3 separate regions of the Homo sapiens genome follow, and regions 2 and 3 are each linked to region 1. The links come from fine-mapping of genetic effects on gene expression. A gene starts in region 1. Each other region holds a variant in brackets. All regions are shown on one strand. Distances are between the middles of the regions. Region 1 holds the start of LINC00173 (long intergenic non-protein coding RNA 173). Region 2 overlaps LOC105370003 (a long non-coding RNA gene). Region 3 overlaps MAP1LC3B2 (microtubule associated protein 1 light chain 3 beta 2).

Region 1 (6,205 bases):
AATCACTTTTTTTCTTGACCCCAGGAGCTTTAATGGAATTCCAAGTTGTAGTCCATACATCAGTGCTGAGAAAAGATGATCCATGTCAACTGATTGATTGACGGATTGAAAAGCATTTGTTTTGAGGCAGGCACCGCACTGTGCATTTTGGGGACCCAAATATGAAAAAGACATAGCTGCCTGTGCATAGGAGCCAAATGGTCTAGAGAGAGGCAGAGATCACAAAGCAACATGGGATGCCAGAGTGACTGGGAGTTTATTTGGGGGATATTGATCTGAAGGGTGAATAGGAGTCTCCAGGCAGGCACATGGGTGGCCCATCACCAGTTCACGTGATCTGAGTACATGTAGGATAAATGACCCCAGGCAAGGCTGGGTGGATGTGGCACAGCCTGACCCTGTGGAGATGAGGAATAGTACGATATCCGTTAAATATCCATTCACTAGGGCCCATCCACTGCACCACAGATGTTGCCCTAGAATGGAGTTTAGCCATGTAGTCATTCATTCATTCATCCATTAAAGCCACAGATATTTACCGAGCACTCACGATGTGCCAAGGAAGACTAGGTGCTGGGGAGGCAGAGGTGATCAAGATCAATCTGGTATCTTTCCTTTTGGAGCTTCCATACTGGTGGAGCAGAGGGCCATTAAACAAATACACGTGTCAAATAATAAAGAAATATATAGTACAGGCTGGGCACGGTGGCTCAAGCCTGTAATCCCAGCACTTTGGGAGGCTGAGGTGGGTGGATCAGTTGAGGTCAGGAGTTCGAGACCAGCCTGGCCAACACGGTGAAAACCTGTCTCTACTAAAATTACAAAAATTAGCCAGGCATGGTGGTACGTGCCTGTAATCCCAGCTACTTGAGAGGCTGAGGCAGGAGAATTGCTTGAACCCAGGAGGTGGAGGTTGCAGTGAGCCAAGATCGTGCCACTGTACTCCATCCTGGGCAATAGAGCAAGACTCCATCTCAAAAAAAAAAAAAAAAAAAGGAACTATACAATACAATAAAAGACAACCTAATACACATAAAAGCATCTGCCTGCCCCTCAGTTTCTGAGCTCCCACTTGACACCAAGTGTTGTGGGGGTACAAATTTGGGTCAACATTTTGTGTAGCAGAACTCTGGGGACCAACCAGAACTCCTGAAAACAGGATGCCACTCAGCAGTGACAGCCTCACTTTCCCATTTACTGGGCTTTTTTTTTTTTTTTTTTTTTTTTTTAACATCTCTGGACACCTTGGATCCTGCCAGCAAGCCTCGGGAGGCAGTTTAGGAGTTATTTTCTTTACTTCTCAGGGGAGGAATCCGAGGCTTGGAGAGGAGGAGGGATTGACCGGCCTGGGGTCACACAGCTAGAAAGGCCAAGATTGCTATGCCGTTTTTTTTTTTTTTTTTTTTTTTTTACAAAGAAAGAACAGCGGAGCAAGGTGGCCATTTTATTTTCTCAAAGCCACACTACCTGCTGCTACACAGGACATAAAAGTGCAAAATTCCACCAGGAAGGGAAACAAAACAGTCTTGAGACAGCCATGTCTCAGAGGTGAAGATTGGAGGAGATTTTAATATAGGGTGTGAATTCCAATTCACATCTCTTCCAACGGGACCTCTTTCCGAAGTCCCGGGAACTAACATTCATCAACACCTCTGACATCCCAGAGGATCGCAACATTCCTGCCAAGGGTTATTACTCCCATTTCCCAGATGAAGAGATTGAGTCCCTGCAGCACGCAATTAGACAGTAGCAGAACCAGAATTTGAACTCTGATCCACCCCGATTCTGGGACCTGTGGAGCTCCAGGTACCGAGAGCTGGCTCTCGCCTGGGGCCTTGGAGTCTGGGTAGCTGGATGCTGGGAGAGGCTGCGGAGGTAAGGGCCCAGGGGCTGAGGTTGCAGCGGCTGCCCGGGAATGCGGCCCTTGCACGCCCACTTTTTAACACAGTGCCATCCCTGACAGACACCCTTGTCCTTTTCCTGTGCTGCCCTTCGTAACACCATAAATAAAGCCTTAGAGTAACGTGACCTGAGCCAGGCAGTAAATGATGGCACTGTCAGTTGTACACGACTGTTGAAACAAACACAGACTGTAATCATCGTGCTGTACGGGGAGAAAGACATTTGGCAAATGAGATTCCATTTTCACATTGGTTTGTGCTGAGCATATAAATTTCCTGCGGGCCGGCCAGCATTGGGGATGTGTAATTGATTGCCTGCATTATAATAAACAAGCTGTGACAGGTGATCATTCATCATATTCCGCTGAACGTTCCAGCACACCAGAAAACGGAGGAAGAGAGGGAACGCGCGAGCAAGGGGAGAGGAGAGGAGGAACCTGGGGGAGGGGAGGGGGTCGGAAAGACCGAGTATTCCCGACAGACAGAAAAACCAGGGGAGGGGCGGGGGAGGGAATCCGCTGAGCGGGCGGGGGAAAGTGAAAGCAATTACTATAATTCTTTTGATTATCTAATTTGTTCTTTCTGGCCTTCGTTATATGACCCTCCCCCCCTCCCCCCACTCCAACATAGAAGGTCCCCCACGGGGACTTGGGAAGGCACAGAGAACGCTCCCTCCACGATCGAGGGAAGGAAGGGGGGAGGCAGGTGGGGGAGGGGCCGCGTCTAGTTGTAACCGGAGTAGATACATTCGGGAAAACCTGGGGGGAGAAGGAGGAGGAGGAGGGGAGGAGCGTGTGCAGGACTTAGCTTTGCTCTTGCACTGAGATGCCTCCAGTCGGATGGATAGGAACCAGCCTCTTTAAATACATTTTTTTAAAGGGTGTCTGAAAAACAAGTGAAAAGTTCCTTTTATTGGAGAAAAAGGACAGCATCCAAGTTGGCATCAGATGTGGTTCCACAAGCCTGTCATATGGTGCTCTCATTCCTCCCCCTCGCTCCCTCCGCCCCGCCCCAGCTCCCACCTCCCCACCCCCACTGCAGCCCCAGCCTCTCTGTCTCTCTCTCTGTGCCCTTGGCCCGGGGCTGGGGGTCGAACAGCAACTGCTGGGAAGCACCCTCCTCTCCAGGAGCTCCCACCTAGACAGACAGAAGGCGGAGGTACACTGGCATATGAAGGACAGAAAGACAAATGCAGAGCTCTCGAGCCAGCACACGCATTAAATAAGTACTTACATTATGCAAAAGCCAAGGGCCTCAACAAGGGGGTGAATGAAGAAGGGGGACAAGGAGGGCTGCGTCCCAGACTAGTTTCCCCAGCTCTCACCCTGCCAATTTCCAGCCCCCGCCTCCCTATCCCGCAAGCGTCCTCCCATTCCCTCCCTGGTACCAAGCGCTTAGAGCAGGTGGGAGCCTCGGACCCAGAAGGCTGGGAGCTGAGGAGGCGTGGCTTGCGCTAACATCGGGGGCGGGGCCTGGCTGGGGCTTAGTCGGGGCGGGGCCCACGCCGGAGGGGGCGGGGCGAGCACAGAAGAAAGAGCGTTAGGGGCTCCTTTGCCACTCGTTGCACGCTGCTTCCCAGAGTCTTCTGCTATTTCATCGTAGCCTTAACAACTGGAATCTGTCGCCTTCGAGATGTTCCTAAAGTCACTGCTTTGGGAGAATCTGTTCAAGGGACCTGCTTTCCAAAAGCAATGACATCAGCCCAGCAACGTGATCTGTGTTGTCCTTGAAGGATTAACAACTCATTTGGGTCTCCCAAGAGCCCTAGGAGGTAGCCAGGGCAGGTGCTGTTGTCCCCGTCTCACAACGACCTATGAAGTGCATGTTGGGGCCTTGATTTTACAGGGGAAGGAACACAGGCACAAAGAAACGAAGTTACTCTCTCGGGATCTGGCAATGAAAAAGTCAAAATTTGAAGCCAGGGGTCTTCTGACCTGTTCTTCAGCATCCCTATGAGAACATATACTTTCTCCCTCCAACACTCTCCTCCCATCCATAAGTGCATACAGGTGCTGAATAGGAGGGGCAGAGTTGAGTCTATATTGAATGATTGTGCATCCAGATCCTCACTAAGCCCTCTTGGTTTTGCCTGACACACGTGGCTCACTGTGTGCCCCCTGGTCCAGGCCACCTGCATCTTCCTCCTGGACCACTGTCCCCGCCTCATCACTGGCCTTCCTCTTAATGCTGTTCTCACTCCCATCCACTACCCACCAGCAGCCATGATGATCAATGATGGTCACCATCCATACCCTGTATCAACTGTCTCTCTAGCGCCATCTTTTTTTTTTTTTTTTTTTTTTTTTTAAAGACATGGTCTCCCTCTGTTGCCCAGGCTGGAGTGCAGCAGTGTGATCGTAGCTCACTGCAGCCTTGAATTCCTGGACACAAGCAATCCTCCTGCCTCAGCTTCTTGAGTAGCTGGGACCACAGGTGCTTGCCCCCATGCCCAGCTAATTTTTATTTTTATTTCTGTAGAGATCAAATCTCATCATGTTGCCCAGACTAGTCTTGAACTCCTGGCCTCAAGCTTCCCCAGTTGCTGGGGATTACAGGTGTGAGCTGCCACACCTCTTGCCTTAGCTTCCCCAGTTGCTGGGATTACAGGTGTGAGCTGCCACCATCTTTTTTTTTTTTTTATTTGTTTGTTTTGTTTTGTTTTTTGGAGGCAGAGTCTCATTCTGTCATCCAGGATGGAGTGCAGTGGCATGATCTTGGCTCACTGTAACCTCTGTCTCCCAGGTTCAAGTGATTCTCCTGCCTCAGCCTCCCGAGTAGCTGGGATTACAGGTGCCTGCCACCACGCCTGGCTAATTTTTGTATTTTTAGTAGAGACAGGGTTTCACCATGTTGGCCAAGCTGGTCTTGAACTCCTGACCTCAGGTGATCCACCCACCTTGGCCTCCCAGACTGCTGGGATTACAGGGGTGAGCCACCATGCCTGGCCAGGTCCAGAAGTTTTCCATCACCCCAAACAGAATCTCGGTACCCATTAGCAGTCACTTCCCATTCTTCCCTCCCGTTGGCCCCTGGCAGCTGCCAATCTGCTCTCTGTCTCTATGGATTGCCTGTTCTGGATATTTCATGTAAGTGGAATCCTACGATATATAATCTTTGTGTCTGCTTCTCCCACTCAGCATCATGTGTTCAAGGCTCATCCATGCTGTAGCGCATGCCAGTGCTTCCTTTCTTCTTATGGCTCAGTGCTGTTCCATTGCCTGGATGGACCACATTTTGTTGATCCATTCACTGGCTAGGGGTCATTTGGGTTGTTTCCACCTTTTGGCTATTGTGAATAGTGCTCTATGAACAATTGTGGGTAAGTTTTCATTTGAATATTTGCATTTATTTATTTGTTTATTTATCTATCTATCTATTTATGTTTTGGAGACAGAGTCTCCCTCTGTTCCCCAGGCTGGAATTCAGTGGCGCAATCTCGGCTCACTGCAACCTCTGCCTCCCGGGTTCAAGCGATTCTCCTGCCTCAGCCCCCCGAGTAGCTGGGATTACAGGAGTGCGCCATCACGCCTGGCTAATTTTTGTATTTTCGGTAGAGAAGGGGTTTTGTCACGTTGGCCAGGCTGGTCTCGAACTCCTGACCTCAGTCAGGACCTCAACTCCTGATTCCCCTGCCTTGGCCTCCCAAAGTGCTGGGATTACAGGTGTGAGCCACCGCGCCTGGCCTGAACCTTTGTTTTCAATTGTTTGGGGTACATACTTAGGAATGGAACTGCTAGGTTCTGCAGTAACTCTGTGTTTAGCTTGTCAAAGAACCGCCACACTATTTTCCTCAGTGACTGCCCATTTTACATTTTCACCAGCAGTGCACCAGGGCTCCAATTTTTTACATCCTTGCCAACCAACACTTGTTATTTTCTGTTAAAAAAAAAAGTTTGCGCCGGGCACAGTGGCTCACGCCTGTAATCCCAGCACTCTGGGAGGCCAAGCGGGGTGGATTGCCTGAGGTCAGGAGTTCGAGACCAGCTTGACCAATATGGTGAAGCCCCGTCTTTACTAAAAATACAAAAATTAGCTGGGCGTGGTAGCGTGTGCCTGTAGTCCCAGCTACTTGGGAGGCTGAGGCAGGAGAATTTGCTTGACCCTGGGAGATGGAGATTGCAGTGAGCCGAGATTGTGCCACTGCACTCCAGCCTGGGCAACAGAGCAACACTCTGTCTCAAAATAATAGTAACAATAATAATGTTTGCCATCCCAGTGGGTGTGCCTAGCTCCATCTTTTAGATGAGATGGGGTGAGTTCAGGGTCCATATGGCCATAGACTAGATCCATCTTATACTTCTCTC
Region 2 (6,205 bases), 820 kb after region 1:
GCTCAGGAGTTTGAGACCAGCCTGGGTAACATGGCAAAACCCTGTTTCTACAAAAAATACAAAAATTAGCCGGTTGTGGTGGCACATACCTGTAGTCCCAGCTGCTTGGGGGGCTGAGGTGGGAGGATCACTTGAATCTGGGAGGTAAAGGCTACAGTGAGCCGAGATTGTGCCACTGCACTCCAACCTGGGTGACAAAGTGAGACCCTGTCTCAAAAATAAAAATAATGAAATACATGTACCCCCTGTATCTAAAAGTTTTTCTTTAAAAAAAGATTGTTCGCTGAGAGTTAAATGACAAGAGATTAGGAGTAACCCTTGAAAATGAACAAGATTTCCAAACTTGAACAAGAAGAGAGGGTGGTGGGATGTCGGGTAAATCTCAATACCAATTTAAGTCTTGTCTGGGACTATCTTTAGGGTTGATGTCTAAATTCAGATCTCTTATTCTGTATCTTTTCTTCAAATCCACCTATCCCAAAGCTTCCTGGACATTGGCACTTGTCTATCTGTCAGGCACTGGGGATCCTACAGGTCTCAAATCTAACTTATTTTTTCCCCACTTCCCGAATTTTCTCTTCCGTAACGTCCCTTAGCGTAAGGAATGTCCCATTGTCAATTCAGTAGATCAGAACAAAAATTCAGGAGTCGTCCTGGACCCCTTTCTCTTCCTGCCTCCTCTGTATTCCATCAAACATAATTCCCCCTTTATGAAGGTCTCATGCCCTCCTTCTCTGTTTCCCTAAGTAAGGCACACAAAGTACCTTAGCCTGTGCCTGGCCTGTGGAAGTTACTTGCAAACATTAAATGTTCATTTCCATTACTTCAAAACCTGGGATCATGTAGACTTTTATAAGTCAATAATCAGCTTTTTAAAATGTATTAAGAGACTGTTTATATTAACTAAACTCAGAAGGTGGTTTATCCTCCTGCTTTCTTCTAGGAAGAGATCCCATTATAACCAGAATAAAAGGAATCGTCCCTGGAGAAAAGTCAACTTGGTGTGCCAAAGCAATGCTTTGTAAAATTTGAAAGCAATTCTAAAACTCGTTGGGTTGGGAGGCTGACAAAAGTTTGCCAACTCTTTTGTTTGCCAAGTTAGGTAACATTTTAAAAATTGCTATCTGCAATTACTATCAGTTTGTAAATGTGGCACTTGATTAAAACTGTGGCTCAAAAGTTTTAGTTCTGAAGTGAAGCTGCTTTCAAAGAAGTAGCATCTACAGAGTATCTTCCCATCTAAAGTCATCTTAGTTTTTAAATGACATAATGACCAATTCTTTTTTTTTTTTTTTTTTTTTTTTTTTTGAGATGCAGTCTAGCTCTGTCCCCCAGGCTGGAGTGCAATGGCACGATCTCGGCTCACTGCAACCTCCGCCTCCTTGTCTCAAGCAGTTCTCCTGCCTCAGCCTCCTGAGTAGCTGGGATTACAGGCATGCACCATCACGCCCAGCTAATTTTTTCTGTATTTTTAGTAGAGACAAGGTTTCACCATATTGGCCAGGCTGATCTCTAACTCCTGACCTTGTGATCCACCCACCTGGGCATCCCAAAGTGCTGAGATTACAGGCGTGAGCCACCACGCCTGGTCCATGACCAATTCTTAAAACCCATTTTCTCCCTTCTTATCTCCCCAAGTTTTTGCACCCAAACTTTCCAAATCTTCTCAACCCCCTTCTGCAGGGCTTTAACTTTCTCCCTCTTCCTTCCCCGTGTGTTTCTAGCTGTTTGCCATGCAGATTGGCTTACCCTCCCACCTTCTCAGTCCTTTCCCCACTTTTCTTTCTGGTGGCAGTGGTCTGTTCCTCCCTTCCTCTGGTTCAGCATCAAGAAAGCTCCTTCCTGCACCCTAGTCCAATTATCTAACAAAGGCAGAACTCGTTCTCTGGATAAAGAAGGAAAGACATTGGGAAAAGTGATCCTTATAGCTGGTAGGGGAAGGAGAAGAAAGACTGGCTGGCATGAATTGCTCTTGTTCCATTGCCAAAGAGAATTTTTAATAACAATAAATATAGAAAGAACAGAATCTTACAATAAAGGTCAGTTTTTTGTATTGAGTACTTTTGTACTGAGTACTATATGAACAACTCAGGACATTTTTCTCTTTTTGTCCATTAGCCATTGACTGATGAAAACTTAGCAGCCTTCTGGTTTATCTTCCCTGATTAGTTTTTGCCTCTTTTTTCCCCTAGGTACATTGAACCTGTAGTTAGCAAAGCCCTGTTAGAGCATCCGGATGATCTTCTCATTGTGTGGGTAGGAAGGAAGGTAGCTCAAACTTCCAGCTCTGTTTCTATCTTCTTGTCACATCATCTACCCGTGTTTGAGCTCCAGGTGGAGTCCTTTGATTACAGGGCAATAAACTCCGTGCTCTGTAAGAACTGTCTAGGAAAATGAGAATTTCACTTCCTTGATGAAGCCATGAGCTTTTCTTTTTTGACACAGAGAGGAAAAAAAATCTAAGAGAAATAAAACAAGAAGCAAGACTGAGGATAGAAGAGAGCTTTTTACTCATACAGGTTGAGCATCCCTAATTCGAAAATCCAAAACCCAGAATGCTCCAAAATCTGAAACTTTTTGAGCACCCACGTTACGCTCCAAGGACATTCTCATTGGAGCATTTTGGGTTTTGGATTTTCAAATTAGGGATGCTGAACTGGTAAGCATAGTACAAATATTCCAAAATCTAAAGAAAATTTCAAAATCCAAAATGCTTCTGGTTCCAAGCATTTCAGATACGGAATACTCAACCTGTACCAGTTTGGGCTTGTCAACTCAAATGAATTACACTGTGAGTTTGTGTGTTCTCCATCACACCAAATGACCCCTTCTTGGGAGATTGCATTTCTAATAAGGTGCATCTCCTTTGTACATCTGACTGTGTTGTAATTTACAGCATGTTTCTTTTACAATAAAAACAAGAGACCTTCATTTTAAATGTTTCAAATGTTTTAATTTCTCCAGAATTAACTTCTTTCTTGTTGGCTCCAGGATAGTGAGCTGCTATTTTGCTTCTAATAAAACTGTATTCAGTGGGAGTGTGTAGAGAATAAGGCTCTTTAGACATCTTGGTTTAATAATATGATTAAGTATTTATTGAGAGTCTAATATATGCTAAACATGGTGTTTGGCCATGGTACTCATGTAATTGCAACTCAAATCTGCTAAGGCAGGAATTATTTTCCATATTTTACAGATGAGGAAACTGAGTGTTAGAGGAGTTTAGGCTCTTGCTTGTGGGTGTTGAGATGGTAAGTGGTAGAGCTAGGTTCAAATCCATGTTTCACTCTAAGACACATGTTCTTCCTGTAGACATCTTTCTGGGTAGCATCTGTTATCTATTGTCTTTAACTGACATCTGGTTTGGCTGAAGCTCAAGCTCAGATAATGCAAAGGGAGCTGTGGATTGGAAGAAAAGCTCACTACTTCAGGGGAAGATGTATGGGGTCACACACTGAGTGTGATGTACTCTTGCTAATGCACCCAATTGCCCAACTTCTAAATTAAACTCTTTCTTGTCTCCAAAATTTAGATTTTGTTCAGCTAAGGACTCCTGGGGTGATATGGTGGTAGAGATGATGGTTGTGGTGGTGATGGTGATGGTCATAGTGTAGTGGGGATGGTGGTGATGGTGGAGATACTATGGTGGTGGTGGGTAGAGATGGTGATGATGATGTTGGTGAGGGAGGTGGAGGTTGTGGAGGAGATGGTGATTCTGATGGTGGTAGAATTAGTAAAGTAGTGGTGGTGGGGTGATAGTGATTGTGGCGATGGTTATGGTGATGGTGGAAAGTGGTGTGGAGTAATGGTGGTGGAGATCATAGTAATGGTGGAATTGGTGTTG[G/C]TGATAATGGTAGAGATCTCATGGTGATGGTGGCGATAATGATGGTGGCCGAAGTTCGTTTGTGGGGTTAATATACCCCAGAAACTTGATTTGATCAGTGTAAACAAGTTGATGAGAATCTGGGCAAGTGATAACATCTCCACCACATTTCCATAAGACTGAGGTAGCAACCAGACTCTAATTGGGTAATTGATGGTGCATAATTATTCTTTCTTATCACAAACTTAAGTCTGCTATTTTGGCTTTCCCAATCCTGAGACAAGGAAGCCAAATTAGACACAAGGTTTGTTCAGAGAATATGGAAGGAAAGAAAAGCAAGAATGATCCCTAATAAGCATTTGTACACTCCCATCCTAGGGGGAGACTTACTTACATCCAACCTTACTTTACGTCATCTGTCTTTGTAGGTGCAATCAGACATCTAATCTTTCTAATCTGACAAATTTGGCATGAGAGAAATTTCAAACTCATGACTTATCTGAGGCTTAATTTTCTCAATAGACAAATAATGCTGAGTTTTCCAAATTAATATAAGGATCTAATAAGATAATGTACATAGACTATTCAGTACAGTTCTGGGCCCAAAATATTTATTTTGGAATTGGGATCAGATCTATAAAATGTCATCAAATTAATCCTTACAAGAAACCCCCAAAGAATCCCCATTTTAATGCTATGCAAACTGAGCTATAGCTCATTTAACAGGGGAGTTAAGTAACTTTTAATAGTAGGTAACACTTATTGGTCACATACAGGTGCTATGTACTTCGCTAAACATCACCTCATTTAATCCTGACATCAACCGCATGAGGTAGTACCCTTATTCTCCCCATTTTACAGATGAGAAAACTGAGGCACAGAGAGGTTGCATAACTTGCTCACATGGTAAGAGGAAGATGCAGGATTTTGCACTCAGGTTACTTACTCCAGAATCTACTTGCTTAACTGGGAATTGGAATGGTGGTGAGTCATTGGTCACATGGGGGTGGTGCTGGTTGGGGATCTGAGCAGAAGCTCATACAGATGCAGCTACCGCCTCAGCAGTGTATCTTTCCCTTGCCAGTATTTGCAGCTGATTCACCAGGATTTTCATGCTTCCCAAGGTTGCCTTGACTATGTATATGAGAGGAGTATCCGGGGCCAAGCCCAGCTGCTTTGGCAAGGATGTTTATAGAAGAAACATCTCCTCCACACCCAGGAGGATGTGCTCTTTACACTCTTTGGGCTCCAAGATCCTGGCTCCAAAAGTATCAGCCATGCAAAAAAGAAAAAAAAATTGTACTTGCTCTCTTCAGGGGAAGAAAAAGGCAAAAAAAAAAAAGCAAGAACAAACCTCTCCCATCCATCTGTAACCAAATATATTTTGTGCTTGGTTTCCTTGGGTGGCCTTCTCTTAATGGTTTCTAATTCATAGAGACAAAAAACATAAAACAATTTAAGGCATTGGCACGCTCAGCTCGGCAACCCAGTGTATTCCCGAGGGAGTGCTTTTGGCAGCGACCTCCTGAAGTTGGCCTAGCTAGGAGGCTCGGAGGCTCACAAGAACAGAGGAAGGTTTTTTTTTTTTCTTTCTTTTTTTTCTTGTGCTGTTCCCTGCTTGCTGAGAGATATGCAAGGGAAGTGGGTTGGCTGGGTAATTATCTGGCTGGTAATTACAGCCAGTTGTGGAGGAATACTGCATATTCCGAACGGTCGCCATGCTAGCTGGGAAGAACCCTCACCGAGCAATGGATTTATGGCTGGCCATGCAGAGCAGGATGTATGTTTTGGCTCATGCACTAGGGAGAGCTCGGCCTCTCCCTCTTTCTTTGCCTCTCTCACTCTCTTTAATCTCAACTTCAGAAGGGAAGGAGTTGGTCGTTAATTCATCTGGATTTTGAAATTGGGCTTTTTCATGTGAAAGAGGCAAGGGCTGTGAGGATTTTGTTCATTCTGTCTCTGGTGTCACATCTACTGTATTCAGTTAATATTTACTAAGTGAAACAAATTGGTTTACAAAGAGCATTGATATAATATCAACCGATATTTACAGAACATTTTCCAAATGCCAAAGCCCCATTATAAATAGCTTCCGTGTACTGTGAAGTGGATTCCCATTTTTATCTCTACTTTAAAGATGAGGGGACTGAAGCTCAAAGAGGTGAATAACTTACCTAAGGTTACACAGCTAGAAAGTCAGAGCAGGTATTCAAATCTGGGCAGCCAACCACAATACTATATTATGGATGGATAAGTGGAAGGCTAGATATTGGCATGACAGATGAAAGACTTTCAGAGAAAGTTAACCCCATCCCATTTATTTTTAGTGGATAAGAGAAGCACATGGCTGGATTCCAGGTTTAAGCAGTGAATTTGTAGCAG
Region 3 (6,205 bases), 36 kb before region 1:
GTGTACCAGGAGACAGGAGCTGGACAAAGAGTAACAGATACCCTTGATTTCCTTTCATATGCAATACCAAAACAAATAGACGATGCCCGTGCTGCTTCTGGCAATCTATCTGCTGAAGGTACAACTCTTTGGTTTTCTGATTGGCCTGAGCAAGTGTCGATCATTTTATGATCAAGGTTATGGATAATCTAAAGGTCTTGTCTGATGTCTATAGAGAGGACTCTTTTTTATTTTCTTAGCGGCAGAAATTGTGAACTCTCGGTAACATTCAATCACACCCTTCTTTTCCTTTATTTGCAATGTAAGAGGACAAGTTTCTCCCTAACCCTTTTTTTTTTTGTAACGGTCATAGCTATAGAAAACAAACAAGAAGTATGTTGTTTTCTACAGCTATGACCATTAAAAAAAAAAACAACAGTTGCTTTAAGCAGGAACTTCGCGGACATTACTTTGTTTCTCTCCTAGGTCTTTTTAGGACAAAGGAGAGACAGTTCAGAATAACGTCCCTAAGAATAGCAGTCCGTGGCCGGGCGCGGTGGCTTACGTCTGTAATCCCAGCACTTTGGGCGGCCGAGACAGGCGGATCACGAGGTTAGGAGATCGAGACCATCCTGGCTAACACGGTGAAATCCCGTCTCTACTAAAAATACAAAAAAATTAGCTGGGTGTGGTGGTGGGCACCTGTAGTCCCAGCTACTCGGGAGGCTGAGGCAGGAGAATGGCATGAACCCGGGAGGCGGAGCTTGCAGTGAGCAGAAATCGCCCCACTGCACCCCAGCCTGGGCGACAGAATGAGACTCCGTCTCAAAAAAAAAAAAAAAAAAAAAAAAAAAAAAAAAAAAAAAAGAACAGCAGTCCCTTACTCCCATCTATTCTCACGAGAAGGAAAAATTCATTTCATGGTAGGATCAGTGGACCTAGGTCACATTTTGAGACTGCCCCAAGGTTCTTGCACAACAGTAGTCAGAGAAACCTGGCAAATGCTGGGTTTCCTTACTGCAGGACTTCTCAGAGCCTTTAAAATGCTAGTGTTTTACTGTGCACTTCCAAGAGGAAGACGTGAGTGGGTTTCCCACCTTTCCTCAACCACAGAAGCCATTATGGGCAGAGCTTTTCCAAGATTGTTATTCCATAGTGTACTCTTCAGAAAAAGCTGGACTACATGGTCTTAAATATGTCCTTAGATAAAATCAGACCCTTACAGAATTGCAGCTTTAAGCCGTTTGTTTTGGCCACTTGTAGATTTTCTTGTATTGAACCTCCCTTAACCTGAATTGAGGCACATTACAGAGAAATCATGGTATAAATATGCTATCATTTTTATCACAAGGAAGTTGCAATAAAATTGCAACCGATAGAAGAACATTTCTTATATACCTTGTTACTCACACAAACTGTGTTTTCCCAAGTGATCAGTTGCCTTACACAGGTGCTTCTCGACTTATTAATACATCCTGGTAAACCTATCATACGTTGAAAATGCATTTAATTCACCTAACCTACCAAACATCATAGCTTAGCCTAGAGTATTACTTTGTTTTCATGTGGCTGATAAAGACTTACCCAAGACTGGGTAATTTATAAAGAAAAGAGGTTCCACGTGGCTGGGGAGGCCTCACAATCATGGTGGAAGGCAAAAGGCACATCTTACATGGCAGCAGGCAAGAGAGAATGAGAGCCAAGTGAAAGGGGGAACCCCTTATAAAACCATCAGATCTCGTGAGACTTACTCACTACCACCAGAACAGTATGGGGGAAACTGCCCCCATGATTCAATTACCTCCCATTGAGTTCCCCCACAACACATGGGAATGATGGGAGCTACAATTCAAGACAAGATTTGGGTGGAGACACAGCCCAACCATATCACCTAGCCTACTTTAAACAAGCTCAGAACACTTATATTAACCTACAGTTGGGCAAAATCATCTAACACAAAGCCTATTTTATAATAAAGTGTTGAATATCTCATGTTTATTGAATGCTGTACTAACAGCAAAAAGCAGAATGGCTGTATGGGTACTTGAAGTACAGTTTCTACTGAATGCATGTTACTTTTGCACCATCATAAAGTTGAAAAATTATAAGTTGAGCCATTGTAAATTGAGGATCATCTGTATGCAACCCTGTGAACTTTAGTAATGAGGGTATTTCCCTCTTTGCCCCTTCTTCTGAGCCACTGACAATAATGATATACAACTTTGTGGGTATGCATTTTGGGTAGTGATTTTATTTTATTTTATTTTATTTTTGAGATGGAGTCTCACTCTGTGGCCAGGCTGGAGTGCAGTGGCGCGATCTCGGCTCCCTGCAACCTCTGACTCCTGGGTTCAACCAATTCTCCTGTCTCAGCCTCCCAAGTAGCTGGGACTACAGGTGCGTGCCACCATGCCCAGCTAATTTTTGTATTTTTAGTAGAGACAGGTTTTCACCATGTTGGCCAGGATGGTCTCGATCTCTTGACCTTGTGATCTGCCCACCTAGGCCTGCCAGAGTGCTGGGATTACAGGAGCGAGCCACCATGCCTGGCCTGTTATCTTTTATTTTAACATTTTTCCTAGCTTTATTTTTACTTTATCCCCATTTCTTTGATTTGCATTTTTATTTTGTTGTATTGAGGTATGTATATAAGCGCCATTCTACTTCTTTGTTGAAATGTAGTGGGACATCATGATAAAATAAACACATACCTACGTGCATATTCCAACTAGCATATATTAAATACATAGTTACATACAAGGTAGCTGCTAGGGTCTTAAGGAAATAGAGATGAACAAGTTATGGTCCTTGTCCTTGAAGGATTTACAGTTTTGCCAATGAAACAGATGTTAAGTACATTGCCACAATCCACAGGCCCAAATAACAACTACTACGTTGTGGGTTAAGTAGTAAGAGAGGTATGTTTAAAGTGCTCTGGATAAGCCAGAGAGAATGCATAGAAAGACCACATAGAGACAGGAGGAGATGCCTGAGGACCCCCAGCTATTTTAGCTCCCCACTGTTTAGGTCTCTTCAGCATCAATCTCTGGACAGCTTCTGGACAGGTGAGTGAGCAATTGTCTTAGTCTGTGTTCTGCTACTATAACAGAATATCATAGACTGGGTAATTTCTAGAGAAAAGAAATTTATAAAGAAAAGAAATTGGCCGGGCGCGGTAGTTCACACCTGTAATCCCAGTACTTTGGGAGGCCGAGGTGGGCGGATCATGAGGTCAGGAGATCGAGACCATCCTGGCTAACACCGTGAAACCCCATCTCTACTAAAAAAAATACAAAAAGTTAGCCAGGCGTGGTGG[T/C]GGGTGCCTGTAATCCCAGGTACGCAGGAGGCTGAGGCAGGAGAATGGCGTGAACCCAGGAGGCGAAGCTTGCAGTGAGTGGAGATGCGCCACTGCACTCCAGCCTGGGAGACAGAGATTCTGTCTCAAAAAAAAAAAAAAGAAAGAAAAGAAATTTATTTCTTACAGTTCTAGAGGCTGGGAAGTCCAATATCAGGGTGCCAGTGTCTGGCAAGGGCCTTCCTGCTGCATCATAACATGGTGGAGGGCATCACATGATGAAAGGGCAAGAATATGTGTGTCAGCTCAGGCCTCTCCTCCTCTGCTCATAAAGCCACCAGTCCCATCATGGGGGCTGCACCCTGATGACTTTATCTAATCCTAATTACCTCCTAAAGGCCCCACATCCAAATACCATCAACATATGAACTTGGAGATCTAAGTTTCCAGTACATGAAATTTGGGGGACACATTCAAACCATGCAGTAATCCTTCAGGTGATTCCAGCCCCAGCCTGAAGTGGAGCCAGAGGGCATCCCCCAAGCTCTGCACAAATTACAGACTTGTGAATAAAGTACATGTTGTTTTAAGCTAAAAACTGAAAAGATTTTAAAAAGTGCTATGAGGACCCAGTGAAGGAGCAAATAAGTCTGCAGGGCAGAGAGACAGGAAGAAGAGTGGGAAAAGCTCCAGAGATTGTTAGGCTGTGGCCACATGTGAGGTTCAGGGCATTCGCTCACTTGAAAAGATATGCCAAATTGTGTGTACGTGTCTGTGCATTCTTTTTTTTGAGAAAAGGGCCTGTTACTCTCAGCAGATTCTCAGAGATGTTCATAATCCACAAAGGGTCGCATCTATTGCCTTGAAAGGATCAGAGACAATTGCCAGGACGACAAAGAATGGAAAAAGAGCTGCAAAGCTATCAAGGCATTGGAGTCTGGTTTGGCAAAAACATAGGTTAGGCCTGACTGGAGATTCACATTTACTCACTTAATCATTCTTTCGTTCAACAAATAATTTACTGAACACCTAGTGCAGATCAGGCATTGTGCTGGGCATCTGAAACACAATGGGGAACATGATCGTTTGTCCTTTTCAAGAACTCGCAGGCTCCAGACACTTCCCCAGAAGGTTTTCCTAATCCCCAAATCCCTTCCCACTGTTCTATAAAATGAGTCTGTCATTCCTCCTCTAAGTGTTTTGGGTTCCATTTTCTTCTCTCCTGGCAACCGAAACCCTTAGAGGGTTTACATATATATATATATTTTTTTATTTTTATTTTTTAGACAGAGTCTCACTCTGTCACCCAGGCTGGAGTGCAGTGACACAATCTCGGCTCACTGCAAACTCCACCTCTGGGGTTCAAGCAATTCTCCTGCCTCAACCTCCTGAGTAGCTGGGATTACAGGCATGTGCCACCACACCTGGCTGATTTTTGTATTTTTAGTAGAGACCTGGAGTCAACATGTTGGCCAGGCTGGTCTCAAACTCCTGACCTCAAGTGATCCACCCACGTCGGCCTCCCAAAGTACTGGGACTACAGGCGTGAGCCACCGTGCCTGGCCAAAAAAAAAAAAAAAAAGATTTGCAAAGCAGTCAACAAGATACAAGTGACTAAAACTCTCCCAGGAATTAATTTTATAAGCTCATTTTGGTCTTTTCTCAATCAGCATGAAATTACCATGATTTCTTTCTTGAGAAAGAAATAAATCCCCTCAAGGAATAAAAAGACTTCTTTCTAAGTTGAGAACCTGAGGGTGGACATAGCTAACATGTAAAGCTGGAGAAAGGAGTTAGCCATGGGATAGGAGGTGCTTTTACTTGCCTATAATTTCAATTTGAATCTTGGTGGTGTGCAAACAGCATCTCTCAGCACTCTAAATCTCCAAAAACCCAGGCACCTTTGAAGACATGAATTAGCCAAAGAGCTAACTTGCTTTCCTTACCTCCTTTGTCCTTTCCCCTCCCTCTCCCTTCTCTTCCTTTCCGTTTCTCTTGCTTTCAAAATTATTCTCAAGACATACAGAAAAGTTTTATCCTGCAGTTTTGAACTCAATTCTTTTTTTTTTTTTTTTTTTTTTTTTTTTTTTTTTTTTTTTTGAGACAGAGTCTCACTCTGTGGCCCAGACTGGAATGCAGTGGCACGATCTTGGCTCTCTGCAACCTCTACCTCCTGGATTCAAGCAATTTTCCTGCCTCCGCCTCCTGAGTAGCTGGGACTACAGGTGCCCACCACCACGCCCAGCACATTTTTGTATTTTAGTAGAGACAGGGTTTCACCATGTTGGCCAGGCTGGTCTCGAACTCCTGACCTCAGGTGATCTGCCTGACTCGGTCTCCTAAAGTGCTTGGATTACAGACATGAGTGACCACACCTGGCCTCAATTCTTGTTTTTTTTTTTTTTTTTTTTTTTAATCACTGACTCACAGTTCCACGTACTGTATCTCAGATTTTTCATCTCTGAAATGGGTATGATCATACAAGAAAACAACATTTGTGGATATTTTAAGGATTTGGGGTGTTTTGTTTTGTAGAGGTTACACACACACACACATATCTGATTAGCCTCTAGGCAGAGTGGGGACACAGAAACTTCCTCACAACAATCTAAGCAGAGAACATCTTCTTCCTTTACCTGCTGGTGCATTTGTCAATATATTTGGTTGAATTAATCTGCTTAATAATCTAGCCTGCAGCTACCTCAGACTCACTCTTGAAACACAAAACACAACCTTCTCTTTCAGGCAAGGTGCTTCCAACTCCTGGTAGTTATGAGTAGTGGGAAAAGAAGAAATGCATTTTGCTGCATGTTTTGTTCCCAGGACACAGGTTCAAGCTTGCCCTTCACCCCCAAGCAAGTTTTATTCTCTGGAAATCTTCCTTGAACATTGGCAGGCTCAGAGAATCTCTGTTCTCGATGAGCTATAAAC

Evidence for each region. PIP is the estimated chance that this variant, and not a neighbour inherited with it, causes the effect. A credible set is the group of variants that fine-mapping cannot tell apart.
Region 2: its variant is the best candidate, but not a certain one, in a credible set for the expression of LINC00173 in naive CD4 T cells (Schmiedel 2018, PIP 0.77).
Region 3: its variant is the best candidate, but not a certain one, in a credible set for the expression of LINC00173 in unexposed skin (GTEx, PIP 0.86).

Annotation. Positions count from the first base shown.
Region 1 is chr12:116,530,546-116,536,750 of GRCh38, reverse strand. LINC00173 (long intergenic non-protein coding RNA 173) reads right to left here and starts at 3,316. Exons shown (of 3, transcript NR_027346.1): 1 at 3,135-3,316; 2 at 540-631; 3 at 238-398. RefSeq lists an enhancer at 1,407-1,941 and silencers at 3,350-3,399, 3,304-3,505.
Region 2 is chr12:115,709,006-115,715,210 of GRCh38, reverse strand. All of the region lies in intron 1 of LOC105370003 (a long non-coding RNA gene), which reads left to right. Among named protein-coding and RNA genes, the nearest start is that of LINC02463, 170 kb to the left of the region's middle. RefSeq lists an enhancer at 4,713-5,007. The variant G/C (reference allele first, on the strand shown) is at 3,845.
Region 3 is chr12:116,566,100-116,572,304 of GRCh38, reverse strand. The region is part of intron 1 of MAP1LC3B2 (microtubule associated protein 1 light chain 3 beta 2); the gene reads right to left. Among named protein-coding and RNA genes, the nearest start is that of MAP1LC3B2, 9.8 kb to the right of the region's middle. The variant T/C (reference allele first, on the strand shown) is at 3,296.